2 separate regions of the Homo sapiens genome follow, and region 2 is linked to region 1. Evidence: fine-mapped expression QTL. A gene starts in region 1. The other region holds a variant in brackets. All regions are shown on one strand. Distances are between the middles of the regions.

Evidence for each region.
Region 2: its variant is fine-mapped to the expression of TFAP2E in stomach (GTEx, PIP 0.99).

What each region holds. Positions count from the first base shown.
Region 1 is chr1:35,569,651-35,577,977 of GRCh38, reverse strand. It overlaps TFAP2E (transcription factor AP-2 epsilon), which reads right to left and starts at 4,664. Exons shown (of 7, transcript NM_178548.4): 1 at 4,374-4,664; 2 at 3,569-4,051; 3 at 2,978-3,029. The coding sequence starts at 4,400. TFAP2E-AS1 (TFAP2E antisense RNA 1) reads left to right here and starts at 116. Exons shown (of 3, transcript NR_183387.1): 1 at 116-1,312; 2 at 3,280-3,618; 3 at 8,059-8,167. RefSeq lists enhancers at 218-287, 468-557, 1-662, 663-1,515, 3,213-3,959 and 2 more and a silencer at 7,660-7,761.
Region 2 is chr1:35,414,148-35,422,474 of GRCh38, reverse strand. ZMYM4 (zinc finger MYM-type containing 4) reads right to left here. Exons shown (of 30, transcript NM_005095.3): 28 at 6,761-7,009; 29 at 3,903-4,032; 30 at 417-3,005. The coding sequence ends at 2,798. Among named protein-coding and RNA genes, the nearest start is that of ZMYM4-AS1, 52 kb to the right of the region's middle. The variant C/T (reference allele first, on the strand shown) is at 4,114.

The DNA.
Region 1 (8,327 bases):
CCCCACCAGTCCTGCTTGCTTTCTGTGTGTCTGGGATAGGTTGCAAAACTGGAGGTGACAAATGTGGGCAGGAAATGGAGGGCTCCCTTATACTCCTAGGGTCGGCCTCAGCCCTGCCATTTCCTGCCCAATACCGCGGATGCAACTGGCATGGGACCCGGAAGTGTGTGGTAAAGCGCCGGGGCTTCGCCTGGCCGCCCCTCCCGGACGCTTGCCTGCAGTCAGCGAAGCTTTTCCAACCCAGGTCTGGGCCCTGCGAGCTCCAGGTGCCTCTGCCCCGCGGCGCTGGCGAAGTCGAAGCCCGAGAACGCCCACCGCAGCGATGCGAAGGCCGCTTCTGGGGTGGGGCTGAGGCTGCAGCTGCCTCCCTTTCGCACCAAGGACCCCAACCTTCAGCGACGCAGCCGCCGCTCCCGCCCAGGCTGGGAGGCACTGTAGGGATCCGACGCTTCAGGTGGCCAAAGAGCGACTTTCTCTGATTCCAGGGCCCTGGCGGGGCAGGCTCCAGTACCGCACTCGGCGGAGGCCGAAGGTCTGTGGGGCAGGACAGGAGTTCCTCGTGCCGTCGGAAGGGCCGAGGACGAAGGAGGGCGCTAATTCACTCCCCACTGGGCTGGCGGCAACGCCGAATCCCGCAGTGACCGCGGAGGGCCAAGGTGAAAACTGCTGGGGGCGCCGAGGGCAGGTGTGGGGAGGGGCGGCTCCAGGGAGCAAGGAGCCCACCTGCCTCGCCGCCGCAGCTGCCCTGGGTCGACCGCCCACGCTTTCCCCTGGGTCACGACCTCCGGATCCAACTGTGCCCGGCTCCTGCCCCTTCCCCTTTGCTGCTGCTGCGCGGGCTGTAACTTGACGTCTAGGCTGGGGCGTCCAGGGCGCAGTCTCCGCTCAGGTCGCCAGCGCTCCACTCGCTCCACTGGGCCACAGACCCGCTGGCGCTGGGGTCCCGCTGGCGCTGGGGTCCCGCTGGCGCTGGGGTCCCGCTGGCGCTGGGGTCCCGCTGGCGCTGGGGTCCCGCTGGCGCTGGGGTCCCGCTGGCGCTGGGGTCCCGCGGTTGTGCACGTGAGTCCGCGTGGCCCCGTCCCGCGCGGTTGTGCACGTGAGTCCGCGCGGCCGCGTCCCGCCCCGCTCCAGGGAGCCAGCGCGCCGCCACCTGGGATGTTAGGACTCTCGTTGTGTTCTTTGGACTGCTTTGGGGGATTTCGGCGTACCCCTAGGATCTAGGAGTTTTGGAAGTTGTTTGAGAGAAACCAGCTCTGGGAGGGCCTCGCATCCAGTCTCCTGTCTCGGCTTCGGACCGGGGTTCCGGGTTAAGGTGCTCAGAGGAACAGCTGATCCTTCTACCCTTGCGCAGGGCAGAGATCCCCAAACCTCTTTCTAAAATGCAGGGTCTTAGTCTTTCTCAGGGAGTCAGTGAACCTAGACTCCCAGTCTCTTGAGCCCAAGCATGAATAGGGAACTGGGGACCACCACCATGCTCATATTTCTGGTGGCCAGGAAGTCCAGGCAGGCTTTTGCCCACTGCAGACGGATCTCTTTCTTCAGGGGTCAAGAAAGGCTCTGTACAGTAAGCCAACCAAGCCCCACCAGCAGAGCTGCGCTGCAACCAGGTTCCTAGTGTCTTTCCCACACTCCCAGTTCCAAGCGACACAGGACACAGCCCCAATTCCACCTCCCCCCACCCACTTCCTGCCCTGTTGCCTCATCTTCCCTGCTACACACTCCAAGTCATCCACCCAACCCCCAGCTCCTGGTAACTCAGCCCCAGCTCCTGGAAGTCCAGCCCCAGCCCTGCTACCACCACTTCCACCTTGGCCTCCCCTGAGAACAAGTGGAGGGCAAATAGAGCCCAGGCTTGAATTCACTCGTTTGAAAAACAACTCAAGCCAAACCCTGTGGGAGCAGTGCCTGCCTGGGGCACCTCAGGCTCATGTGCACCTCTGAATTCTTTCGGGCACCTGCCCCAAATGTAAAGAGGCTGCTACCCAATGCCTGGGCCCCTCTGACTCTCTGCTCCTCTCTGGCTGTCTCTCTGTTTTTGTCGTCTCTCACCTTCCCCTGTCATGGCCAGTACTTGGTCCTCAGGCCAGAAAAGGTGGATCCCGTGTCCCTGGATTTTACTAATGCCAGGAGTCACATAAATACTCCTATATATACACAGAGAGGGCCCGCGCATGCTTGGAAATCCTCAGATACCAAAGAACAAAGTGCAGGACACAACAGAGATACTGTACATATTGAGAAATGTGTACATCCCCCAAATGCAGAGAAATGCACACCAACATACAGAGACACACCTCACAAACACATTCACAGAAACAGACACACTCACACTCCAAGAAATACTAAGACACCCATGAAGGGAACATTTCAGACATGCACAGGACCCTGAACTCACATGGACACAGACACCCAGGAGCAGGTGGGCCCTGACTCAGGTGCACACAGCCTAACACACAGTACTCACACACAAGCTCCCCTAAGTCTAAATGCCGCAAGAGACTCCCACAGAAAGAAAATTCCCCCAGAGGCCTCCAAGGCCCTGCCTGGAAGGAAGAGGAAGAAAGTGCCCGCCAGGCACCGAAATGCTAAGGCACTGTAAAGTGAAAATCATTTCCCCAACTCCGTGGGAACAGCACTTCCATTCCCATCTCTTAGGGAAACAGGGAAGTGGTTTAACTCGTTCTGCAAATCAACTCCAGATCCACAAGAGTGCCCTCCCCCTCGGCGGGGAGAGGCCAGGCTCCCAGTGCTGCAGCCCAGTGAATGCTGATCCGCTGAGGCCCACCCCAGGCCACAGGGTGCTGGGCAAACTCACCAAGCCCGCACGTCTGCCTAACATCTGGCTGGGCCAGGAAGAGTGCCTGGTGGACACCCAGCCTGGCGACACACAGGAGGCACGGCCGGTGAAGAAAATGGATCTGTGCACCAAGGGCCTGCACCATCTCGCCGGGCTCTGCCCTGACAGACCATTCCTTACCTTTCTTGATCACGGACTGGTCTAGGAGGCTCATTCCCGGCTCGTCCATTGCCTGCAAATAGCAGAGGGCAGCGGTGAGGGCGCATAAAGCCCTAGCCGCCCATGTCTTCCCAAGCCCCTGCCACCCAGGGTCTCTGTCTGCTCCGCCCAAGGCGCACCAGCTTCGCTTGGGGCGGCGACGGGCAGGCCCAGGAATCGCTATGTCCAGGCACTGAGCTGGAGCCCTGGGCATCTCACTGTGCAGTGCAAAAAGGGAATTTTGAATCTTACACTGGTAACTATTATGCTTCTCTTCGCCCCAGGTGCAGGCTGCCCCATGGATGCCACACGTGGCAGCGGGGAGAAAAGAAGTGATTCGGTCCCTGCCGAGGGTTGCTGCCACCCACGCACTGCTGGCGGACTCAGTGCCAGGCAGCCTTGATGGCCAGGCAACGTCTAACCCAGGAGGTGGGACACATCCTCGGAGTCACCAGTGAGATGTGGCGAGCTGGGAGAAAAGTCGGCTTCCTGCATTTGTCACCTTCTGCCTCCAGCCATGGTAGTAAACCACCGCGGCCAGTCCCGACCCATCCCGGATCCCTCGGGTCTCACCTGCAGGTCCTCCAGACCGGGGGCCGCCGCCAGCCCCGGAAGGCCGAGAGGTGCGTCTGCCAGGCCGTGCGCGCCGTCGGCCAGGCCGTGCAGGAGCCGGGGCACGGCAGTGGCATAGTCACGGCGCGGGTCAAGGCCCAGGGCGCGGGCGGGCGGTGCCAGCAGGCCGGGAGGCTCCTCGTGGGCGCGGGCGGCTGCGCGGGGCGCGGCCCAGGCGGCCTGAGGAGGCTGCGGCTGCGCCAGGGGCGCCAGGCCGCCATATGGGTCCCCTGCCAGGTGGGGAAAGGCTGCGGCGGCGTCGGGCGCCTGACCGTAGGGCAGCGGTGGCTGCGGGTAGGGCGGCGGGAAGTAGGGCGGCTGGAATTCGGCGGCAGCTGTGGCGGCCGGCGTGTGGCAGAGCGGGGGCGCCGGCCCGTAGGCCGCCTGGGGCAGAGACGACAGGCGGGCCCCGCCGGCAGCTGCTCCCAGCCCGTCGGGGCGCTCCTGGGGAAGGAGAGGGGTGCCTTAGGTGACCCACTGGCAGCTGAAAGGACCCCAGCCTGAAAGGATCCTCCTCAGCTCGGGAGGGTTCAGCTGCAGTCCCTCCCGTTTCTTGGGGCCCGAGGTTTATTTCCGAGCCACCCGCGGGCGCAGGAGCCTCAGGCTGGGGACAGCGGTCACTTGCGCATCGCGTTCTCAGCTGGCGAAGTCCCTGCGGCCCCCTCCCTCCGAGATTTCGTTAGCGCGGGACAGGAGGGTTGGAAAGTCCAGCACTCAGGCGCCCCGATCCCCCGGCCGAATATGTCCCGGGCCCGAGACTACTCACCATGGCGGAGTAGGTGTGCACCAGCATGGGGCGGTGAGTGCCGGGCGCGAGGCGTGGCGGCGGCGGAGCCCTAGCCCGACGGCGAGCGCTGCGGGCAGAGGCGCCGGGAGCCGGCACAGCCCGCGGAGGTCACGGTGCGGTAGCTGGGTGCGACCCAGCCGGGATCCTAGTGGGCGTGGGGTCCTCAGCGGTGGCCGTTCCCGGGCGGGTCCATGGAGGCAGGACGGACGGGCACTGATCGCACTTGGAAAAGTCGGTCAACGGGTGCCCAGCGCCCGCCCTTCCTCCTCTGAGCGTAGCCTGCTCCATGCACTCCAGTTATAGTGGCGGGGGCGCGCCGGGCCTCCGGGGGCGCGCATTAAAGAGACAAGCTATGGCAGTTCTCTCCCTTTTCCCCAGCGGCTGCCACAGGGGAGGCAGTGGCTTTGGCGGGATCGGGTAGGGTGGGTAGGGGGCGTGAATTCAGCCCACATTGATCAGAGCCGCCTTCTGGGCTCGCAGCTCGCAGCTGCAGTGAAACAGAAATATTCGAGGCTGGGACGCAAGGGCCCTACATTTGCCTGGCTCTATCACATCCTTGCCTTTAAGCAAAGCACTATTCTTCGCTGGCCTCAGCTTCCTCGGTAAAATAGGTATCAATCCTTTCTCTAAGCACCTCAAGAGACTTTGGATGAGGTGGGTAATCGGGAACGTGGAAGAAGTTTGTGAGCTGAAGACTCCAGCCTATCTGCTCATGCGCACACAGTGTCAGTGCGTGTGTTTAGGGGGTCTACCATCACAGTCTTTCCTGAATGGTTCTGGATCAAAATCCCTCGAAGGTGCCCACTTCGCTCTCAGGCTTCCTGGGCTGAAAACTTCCAAGCCAAGCCAGGCTCTGAGGGAGTTGGAGACAGAAGCTGGCCAGACAGAGAGAGAGACTTGCCTGGGATGGGTTTGGGTATGAGCTCCACCTGACAAGGGGCCAAGATATTTCTGAAGCCACAGGGTCCTGGGCTGATTGAGTGTGGGCATGAGATACCCAGAGACTGTTGAGTGACTGTGTGTAACTGACTAGCATGGATGCCGTGTGATTGTTACACTAACATGCGCAGGCTACATGTTCCTGTGTTACCATGGCAGGCACTCCCTGGCTGTCAAGCAAGTTCCAGTCTCTGTAGTCACTCTCTCTTTCTCCCCAAACCCAACCCTCCCCTCCTGACAAGCAGAGACAGGGATTAAAGATGGACAAATGAGAGGAATGCTAAGGAGAACAGGAATTAAGAAAGCAGAAGAAAGATGTTTTTTAAAAGCAAGATGTGCAGACCAGGGCAAAGTAGAAATAATCACAGCAGACTTATTACAGAATGTGCCAGCCTCTGTGCAAAGTGCTTCACGAATATTGGGTTCTTTAACCCTCACAGCAGCTCTATGAAAGAGATACCCATATCATCCCCATTTTCAGGGGAGGGGTGAGGCATGGAGAGGTTAAATGGCTTGCCCAAGGTCAAGCAGCTAAGTGGCAGAGCTGGGGTGATCTGCCCCTGGCCCCTCTCTGCTCAGAATCACTATTCTCTACTGCCTCAGACTCAGGGGCTTGGATTTAGTCCTGACTCTGCCTAACTGTGTGATCCTAGCTACATCCCGTTTCCTCTGTGATCTCAGTTTCTGCAACTTCGACAACACCAATAAAAAAGTAGGGGAAGGCAGAGAAGACTAGTTGTTTTTTTAGGTCCCTTTTTAGTGAAGTAGTAAATGAGAAGATTAAGGTAAAATTATTGATATAGAAGAGGAGGTGATAGTGACACCATTAACTCATGGAATATATGGTTCCAAGTGGGTATCCCAGAAGGCACATGGCAGGTGCAGAGCTCAGGGCTGGATGATCTCAGCCTGGGGAGTGGTGGGGAAAGAAGGAGGCTAGAAGCCAAGGATTCATCATTAAGAACTTTCTGAAGTCTGGAACCGCCAGCGAGGTTCCAGAGGATGAAGCGGAATTGGGAAGCTTTGCAACTTTCCTGCTCGAGATGGGTCAGAGATCAGGATTGTGTTTGTGTGTATCTATATATGAGGGAGTCTGTGGCAATGCCCTGTTCCTCCCTCCCTCAACCCCAGCCACAGGGCATCAGAAGTCAAGCTCCAGGACAGGTGTCAGTGCGTGAATAGAAATTGATGAACTCCTCTGGGAGAAGTCTAGGAGCCGCAAAGGAGATGATGCCTGTGCCCAGCTGCGGGGATGCCCCTGCTCTCTCCAGCAGCTTGGGAAGGCCAGAGTGGCGGGATGTGCTGCCTGTCTGTGGCTTCCTTGGGTTTTCTCAATCTACTTCCTACACCTTTGATAGCCCCTTTTTGCCTCATTGTCCTACTCCGACCATTTCTGTCTTCTTTTCTGTTTCTCTTTTCACCTACATGCTTAATGTCGGTAATTCTTTCTCAGAGCAGAGAAGCTTCTTTTTCTTCCTGCACTCTTCATGAGTGAGCTCATCCCCTCTCAAGTCTTTTTTTTTTTTTTTTTTATAACAGAGTCTCACTCTGTTGCTTGGGCTGGAGTGCAGTGGCACAATCTCGGCTCACTGCAACCTCCACCTCCCGGGTTCAAGCGATTCTCATGTCTCAGTTTCCTGAGTAACTGGGATTACAGGGGCCCACCACCACGCCCGGCTAACTTTTGTATTTTTACTAGAGACAGGGTTTCATCATGTCAGCCAGGCTGATCTCGAACTCCTGACTTCAAGTGAACACTCGCCTCAGCCTCCCAAAGTGCTGGGATTACAGGCATGAGTCACCACGCCCGGCCCAAGTCTTTAATGACTACCTGTCTACTGTTATCTCCCAACTGTGTTATCTCTGGCCTGAATCACTAGTGAGAGATCCAGACCCATAGACACAGCTGCCAGCTGCGTATTTTCTCCAGACATCTCATTGCAGCTGTCTGAAATTTTCCAAGTCCAACACTGAACTCAACATCTCCTCTATCCCCAGCACCAACCCCAACCTGCTTCTCCTTTGCTCTGTAGTTTCATAAATGACACCACCCTTTTTCAAGTTCAAAACTTGCTAGTCATCCCAGAAGAGCGTAGGTCCTTTCCTTAACCCCCACAAGCTAATCCTTATGGAGTGTTGCCATTTCTAACCCTTAAACATCCACCCACAGAAGGTATGTGGTGGAGAATTGAGGCAGGTATCCCAGAGGGCACATGGCACCCTGTCTCAGCACCTTAAACTACCTTACTCTTACTCATAGATCAGTGGCTCTCAAAGTGTGGTCCCTTGAGCCCAGGAGTTTGAGACCAGCCTGGGCAACACAGCCAAAGAGTGGTTCCTGGACCAGCATCACCAACAATATCTGGGAGCTTGCTAGAAGTCCCAATTCTTGGATCCCACTCATGACCTTCTGAGTCAATAACTCTGGGGGTGGAGCCCAGCAACCTGTGTTATTAATAAGTCCTTAAGGTGACTCAGAGGCACATTAAAGTTTAAGAACCACTATCTAGGCCATTGCAACAATTCTCTAACTGGTCTCCTGACTTTATTCATATCTCTTCTGATCAATTTCCAACTTCCACAAGAGTGACTGGACCATGTTACCTCCCTACTGAAAACTTTCCTAGGGCTCCCCATGACCCATCTTCGGGGGAAAAAAAGTTTAAACATTCTAATGAGCATTCCAGACTCTGCAGTTGTGACTAACTTACTTTTCCTCTTTCAGGAACTGCTTCACAAGATTAAAGGAGAAACAGAAAATGTATCTAGCGCTGTGCTTGGGGCATGGCAGGAACTCAATGAATGCTTATTAAATACTGTAAATGATAAACACATCAATGGATGGTGTTATGAATCCACTGGCCTATTAAGGGATCCTTTAGGAAGGCTCTATGTGAACATGATCCTGGGTATCTACACATAGAACCCAGGTATAATCTGAAGAGATCATCTGATAAGTGAGTGATTTTGATTATGGCTACTGGGGAGAGGGAT
Region 2 (8,327 bases), 160 kb after region 1:
TTGGGAAAACCTGTTTTATAAATTTAGGATTGCCACAAGGCAGGTAGGTAGAAAGTCGATACGGAATTTGAAAGTACAGCTGCATAATACCAAGACAACTCTGAAGTCGAAGGAAAATGCTATTTAGTCTTACATTCCTGTTTTAAACATGTATTTATACTTAAGAATGAACATATCCTTTATTCTAGTCTTACAATTTCATTAAAGTTGAACTGATGTAGGCTTTGTAAATCTCAAAAAAGTTTGCCTGAAATGATATGTATAAATGATCTCTGATATTTCTACCTGTTGGGACTTTGAATATAGTCAGTAAATTAGCTAAAAATGGGAACAAGTCTTTTGATGGAAAAAAGGAAATAAAAGAACTTGCAATGAAAAAATATGTTGACTGGACTACATAAAAAAAATTTCTTTCTCGGAAACTGCTCTCTTTCTTTGTAATTTTACTAATTGCTGGGTCATACCAATAAGGTCAATCAGAAAAAGAGATTTCAAATTCTTTTAAGACGTAAAGAAGAAGAACTCACCCATCAAATACAAATATACTATTTTATTCTAAGGGAATATTTCTGTGGTTTCTGTAAGGGGAAAACCTAAAAGTGGTTAAAAACTGAAAAAGAACAAAAAGGATGATTTAGATGTTTTTGTTTGATGTTTTTTTCTCCCCTGGAAAAAAAATGTAATTTTACACAATTTTCATAAAATTAAAAAAGCAATAATCAGACGCACACATCAACAGCTACACTTATGAGGAATGACCAATAATTAATCAATATTTTCTCTTATGAATAAATTTAGGGTTCTGGGCAACTCTGTGGACTAACATGCAAATGAAATCCTGATACAGTCATTTATCTGGGTATTGGGTGTTCTCAGTAAAAGATACAGATTTTTTTTTCTGGTATTTCATAACAATTTATCTACTATGCTAACAATATTTGTTTTTTCATACAACTACAGAAGGGGAAAATGTTAGTGTTTATACAAACCATAAAATTCGTATAGTGGGGACTATTACACTTGCTATTTCTGGATAGTTTATTGGCAGACTTATCAGACAATCCAATTATTTGTCCTCCATATCGAACAAGGTATGGAGTAAGAAGTTTTCCAGTCAGAAATGACAAACACAGATGGAATTAATCATACAGAATCGGGGTGGATTTACTTCTTTCATACAGTTCTTGGTAACAAAAATGAGATTTGTTACAGGCAGAGGGACAGAACCACCAAGTACACAATGTCAGAAGGCCTACTTTTTTCATTTTAGTTTTACTTAAATGCCTTTTATTTGTTAAAAAAGAAATACACCTGCCACCCCCACCTAAAAAATGAGATACCCTGAAAAGTCTTTCAAGATTAAAATTTCTAAGAGGCTTTTTGACATCTCTCAGTTTTATCATAGCGTCAAATTAACCTTAGCTGAAGAAGTTCTGCAATTGGCAAACGTCATAAAAGCTTTGATTCCAAATTTTGTGGGGAAGAAACTGAGAATGGAGATGAGGGAGATGGACTGATATGCCACACACACCTATGACTTGCAATCCTCATAGAACTACTGAAACAGCTAGAGTTTGGAATAATGCTCTAAGACCTGCTTATGGATATGCAAGACAATGTCTTTGTATCCTCACCCCAGAATCCCTATTTTCAAGTTTCAAGGGCAACAAGGTCATCTTCCAAATGCTTTATATAGGAACCTAACTAGGACCTTTTCTATCATAATTCAGATAGCTAAGTAATACTGTATCTTTGTGGAATCACTCACAGGTTTGCCAGAGTAAGAAAAGAGACTATCCTTTTTGAAATGACAAGGGCCTCCAGAAACTGGTGCAAAAGACAAAATAAGAGGAACTGTTTGGGAAATAGGAAGGTAAAACAACGGGAGAAAAGCTGCCATTGGGGAAAAAAAATGAAAATAAAAGGAGAACCCCCATTTCTCTGTACCACAGCTCAGGCTGTGAGACAGCTGCAATAAGGGCCCACACCCAGAGAAGGGGCATTTTAGTGGGTTTCTACAAACATTTCAAGACACTTGGGGTCTGATAGGCTCCACAGATTTTCTGTGTGCATAATTAGTTTGTGGAATATCATCCCCTTTACCTTAGTTTACCCACATCCAGACCCACCGCTGAGAAGGCTTGATCCAGAAAATGAAAGGGACACATTACTGTTAACAGCAGTGAAGGTCATTTTCCCTGATGTGAGGGGCCCATGGCAAAAGCTTCTGTCCTTCACATGATTGGCTTGGCAGTGAAAATCAAAATCAATCAAGACCACTTCACTATCTTTTTTAAAAAGTTGAGTATTTTTATTGGGTCTTCAAATCTGGGTCCCACAGTCCTCATTTGATGTCACTCTTAGCTCTGTACTGATCTCTCCTCTGACTTTTACGGAGGGCTTGCCAAAGTAGCCTATTGCAGCCAAAGTTTCACTCCAAAGCTACCTCTCTAAGGTCTAAGGTTACTATGGTAAAGTTTTATACAACAGTTTTCCTTAAAAATATTCCACGATTTGTTACTCCCAAACAAAATAAGATTATGCACCACTCGGAGAAATTAGTCATTCTGAAGATGTCTAAGAACTATATCACTGCCAAAGAACATTTCTCAGTTCATATTCTTTCCTTCAATTTTCATTTGCACATCCACACTGTGGGGTTCACAAGTCATCTGTTTTCCATGATCTTATGGTCAAGTCAAGAGGACTTAGACTTATACATCATTTTCCAACAGCTGGATGCATTCACAGTTTGGTGCATACCAATATGTATGAAAATAAGAACCTCACTTCCGTTTTAATCTGATAATTCAACATCAGAGTCTTCAGATTTGGCTTTGGCAAGTTCTTCATGTACCTCCCTCACCATGAGAATACGTGTTAACATGGTGTCCAGGGTTCCAGGGTCTATCGGGAATGTGGAGTACCACATGGGGCTATTCGGGACACAGGAGCGCTCAGGTTGAAGGTAAAACACATCATTCCTTTGCTTCACACTTTCAGAACTATCCACAGGGGAAAAAAAAAAAGAGAAAAAAGAAAATTAGAAATCAGAGAGTATAGGAAATATGTACTATTCTTAAGTAAACTGAGGTTTTTGCCATTAAAAGTAATTAAAAGTAAGGGCAAAAACTGCAATTATTTTTGCACCAACCTAATATGGCTCTCAACCTTTCTCCACTGTGACTCACAATGGGGAAAGCAAGGTACCCACAGAGATAAATAGTTTACAGGAATATTTCCTCCCAGGAATCAACTGAAATCACAATGGATTGGAAGTGAGTATAAAGTTAATATAAGACAAAGTGTAAATCATAAACTTTAGTACTTCAAACATTATTAAGAGCAACAAAAAAGTCAACTCACATGTGACACTATGGCCAAGCACCACATATTGGAAGTGCCCAATATCCTGGAATGAACTCCAAGGGCACTCAATACACATTATCAAAGGGCAAATGAAGCTATTACATTTCTTTCAGAAAAAAAAGTGTTACAACTCTAAAATCATAAAGTTCCTCTAAGAAAAGGACTACTTAGAAAATTTCAATTCCTTAAAAATTGTTTTTCTATTATAGCTTTAGCAAAACAAAATTTCTTTTCTATACAAATAACAAAATAACTACAGATTAGGTATCACATAAAGGTTGTACAACAGTTGTAAAGATCAAACAATAGCAGTGATTCTTGCTTTTGAAGACATTTTCATAAAATAATTATGAAGACAAGGTAATTTGTTTTGTGGTTCAAAATCCACATAGATATGACAATGGGGAAAAAATTCATGGTAAATCCTTGTCTAAAGCCACGGGCAAGCTACTTTTCTGATGTTCAAGCATCTGAAATCCAAAATATGTTAACTGCCTTCTGAGTGCACTACATTCAGTTCAGAGAAAGATTACCATTTTGACAGGTAAAACTCATAAAGTCGGACTGGGCATCTTAGTGGATTGTCAGTATTCTCTGCCATCTCCACCCCCACTGGAACCTCATCATCTTCATTTCGTTTCCTCTTGCCAACAGTCAGTTTATCTTGAGACAGGAAATAATAATCAAAGGATTATATTAGAAAAGTCTATTCTTTGAGTCTCAAGACACCAATGAGCTTTGCTT[C/T]GCAGCCAGAACTTTGTCATTTCCTCCCTTTCACTCACTCACACTCATTCAACAAATACTGAGTGCCTATGAAGGTGCCAGACATTATTTTAAGTGCTGGATTCTATGGCATTAAACAAAGTCCCTATCCCATGAATTTTATGCTCCCCTGCTCACCAAAGTGGGGGCACCATGACAAAAAGTATGGCACTGGCACTGGAAAACGTCTCTATTCTGAGCCTGACTTTATTAATAAACTTCATTAGGCACAGGGTTCCTGAGACATATCAAGATAAAGCAGAAAGAAGGGTTCCACATGTTTTTCTCCTACAGTAGAGATCAAGACAGAAGTTGCCATCTCTTTTTTTTTTTTTGAGACGGAACTTTGCTCTTCTTGCCCAGGACGGAGTGCAACGGCGAAATCTCCGCTCACTGCAGCCTCCACCCAGGTTCAAGGATTCTCCTGCCTCAGCCTCCCAAGTAGCTGGGATTACAGGCGCCTGCCACCATGCCCAGCTAATTTTTTTGTATTTTTAGTAGAGACAGGTTTTCACCATGTTGGCCAGTCTGGTCTCGAACTCCTGACCTCAGGTGATCAGCCCACCTCGGCCTCCCAAAGTGCTGGGATTACAGGCATGAACCACCGTGCCCGGTCGCCATCTCTCTTTTAAGAGACAGGGTCTCACTCTGTTGCCCAGCCTGGAGCATGATGGTGTGATCACAGCAGCCTTGAATCTCCGCAGCCTTGAACTCCTGGGTTCAAGTGATCCTCTTGCCACAGCCTTTGGAGTAGCTGGGACTACAGGTACAAGCCACTGAACTCAGCAGAAGCTGTCATCTCTATGAGAATATTTCTACTGTGGGGCACTAGTACTGGGCATCTGCTCAAGTTTATTTGTTCGAATATTGTGAGAAATGGCATCTTTGTTGGGAAGAGAAATTATCAGCAGAGTTACTATTTGGTAAGAAAAGAACAAACCATTTTTCCCCAACAGTATTTTGCAGAGGCCAAGCATTATATAAGGAAGTCAGGGTGAAGATACGGAAAGTGGGCTATTTCTTTCCCACTTTTTCCATTCACTCCTCAAGAGAACACTAGATGGACCTAAGGAAAAAAGGTTTTCTTTCTTTTTTTTTTTTTTTTGGGAGACAGGGTCTCACTCTGTTGCCCAGGCTAGAGTGCAGTGACTCCATCACAGCTCACTACAGCCTCAAACTCCTGGGGTCAAGCAATCCTCCCGCATGAGCCTCCCAAAATATTGGGATTACAAGCATGAGCCATTGCACTCAGCCTATATCTGCTCTTAACAACCGGTATAGGACTTTCCCCAGCTTCCTGCATTATTACTTTAACAAAACTCACCCATTTTCCATTTAGCAGCTAGCTAAATAGAAAGACTTTGCTAGTTACTCACTTAGAAAGCAAGCTGAATTCACTACTAATCATGTCAAGCACCCAATCAGCAAACAGGGAAACATTATCCACCTGCCTTTCCCTCCCCCAGTTAATACCAACTGAGGCCAGGCATGGTGGCTCACGCCTGTAATCCCAGCACTTTGAGAGGCCGAGGCGGGTGGATCACCTGAGGTCAGGAGTTCGAGACCAGCTTGCCCAATATGGTGAAACCCCGTCTCTATTAAAAATACAAAAATTAGCCAGGCGTGGTAGCACATGCCTGTAGTCCCAGCTACTTGGGAGGCTGAGGCAGGAGAATTGCTTGAACCTGGGAGGCGAAGTCTGCAGTGAGCTGAGATCACACCACTGCACTCCAACCTGGGTGACAGAGTGAGACTTCATCTCAAAATAAATAAATAAATAAATAAAAATCAATTGAGAGCACAAAGTGGGTTACATATATATAAAACTAAGCAAACAGGACACAGACATTAGGTGAAAAAGATAATCTTAGTAAATGAACAATTCAGAAAAAAGTTTATACAAAGTTGAACATCACAAATACAGATTTTAGTTTCAGTGATTTAAATTCTCACATTCAAAAAATGTATTTCACTCTCAGAAACTGATTTTGGGAAGTTCAGGACTTATGATTCTATTCAAAAAATAATAAATTTAATTTCTAATCCTATAATACCAAGATTAAGTTTCTGAACATTAAAAACAAACTTATTTAATAGGCTGTTTTTGAAATGCAAGACAATAAACCTTCTAATAAAATTGTCACTGCTATTATTCTATTGTGTACAAAAGCAGTATATTGTAGGTCAGCTTTTAAGTTCCTTCAGAATTTCACAATGTTAACTAAAAAGAGGGGCTCTGGTCAAAAAAAGATTTAGAAACAATGGACTAAAAGTTCTGCAGGTTTCGTTTAACTAGTGATTGACTCATCTGGGGCTAGTAAATTAGTGATTCTCAACCCTGTTTGTATTTTTTAATTTCCTGAGAAGTTTTAAAATGCAGGCTATTTGAGCTCTGCCCAATTAAATCAAAATTTCTAATTTAAAAGCCAATGAAAGTATATTGAAGCACGTGATTCCTCTCACTTTGAGGCCAGCCTTTGACCACTCTCTGACAATAGAGAAAAATATTCAAATGTTAAAGGTACACTCTTTCACGTCTAGCATTTATAATTACCTTTCTGCAGTAACTCTCTATTTTAGTACTACTACTAAGACTTCAAAGAGAAATCTGACAAACAGTATCCCGTACCTGGTTCTGACTCCTGCTTCTGTAAAGGTGGGAAGAACCTCAGATATGTCATCTTGGTACTGTACTTCAGAGTCCTGGTCCGTCTCATCACATGGGCAAAGGAAAGCTTCAAGTGCTCAGTAACATTCTTTAGTTGGAAGTATTTGGTATTGAAGAAAAGGAGGGTGTTTAAAAGGACGATTGGTGAGTAAGCGCCCAGCTGTTTGCACTCCCACAAATGCTCTTCCTCAATGCGAGAGAACATGTAACCTAGACAGAAGAAGGGGTACAAGAAACAGTACTGAGCTCCTGCTAAAGTAGACTAAGTAATCTCTCAAATTCTAAGACAGGGAGATATAAAGAGAAAAACTGACTATTCCTCTTTCCCCTCTTCCTTATGCAGAAAACCAGAAAACGCACCACAAAGAAAAAGGCAGATGATTCCACTCAAGTAGACACCGTTCGTGGAGTCTCCTGAAACCGTTTTAATCTATTGATATTTTAGATTAGGGGTTAAGCTGTCTTTATAAAGGGCCAGAAAGTAAATATTTTGGGATGTGTAGGCCATATAGGCTCTGAACAACGCTGTTGCTGTAGAAACTAAGGAGCTGTAGAGAACACATAAACAGGCAGAGCTATATGCCAGTAAAATTTATTTATAGTCATATAATTTTCTTTTCTTTTTTTTGAGACAGGGTCTTACTCTGTCACCCAGGCTGGAGTGCAGTGGCACGATCAGGGCTCACTGCAGCCTCAAACTCCTGGGCTCAGGTGCTTCTCCCACCTCATCCTCCTGAGTAGCTGGGACTACAAGGCACCACCACCATGCCCAGCTAATTTTTTTTATTTTTTGTAGAGACAGAGTTTCACCTTGTTGCCCAGGCTGATCTTGAACTCCTGGGCTCAAGTGATCCTCCTGCCTCAGCCTTCCAAAGTCACACCTGGGACCACAGGTGTGAGCCACCACACCCAGCCATGAATTTAATATAATTTTCACATGATGAAATAGGAATTCTTAAAAAAATTTCCCCAACTATTTAAAAATGTAAAAACAATTTTTAGCTCATAGATTGCAAAACAGGGAGCAGGCCAGATTTGGCCCATGGACCATAGTTTGCAAACTCCTGTTGGAGATCATTAAGCTTACTGTTAAAGGTGCTCTGCAGCCCAACAGAAAGGTGCATATATTACTAAGCATAACATTGAACCTCTTCATTCACCTCAGCCTGAGACCTGGAGTGAATTATGGACTTGTCTGATGACATCTGGTCAAAGATAATTCAAGGACGAGGACTTAACTCTCTTAACAACAGTTCAGTATACATACAAACTACCAAAAAAGGTCCACTGTTAGCAGATATGATATGTGAAAGCTACACCAATGCTACCAGATCAAAAATGGTTTCTAAAAAGGTAAATGTAACTTCAAATTAGTTTATATTTTCTGCAATCAGTATCTATACATGTGCTATATGACTTGTACAGTTTTCCTAAAACAATCAACAATAAACCAAAGACCGTCTCCTCAGAAGTCCAAATATGGTATAAATCTGGACAGAAATAAAAATGAACAATTTTTTTAAAGATA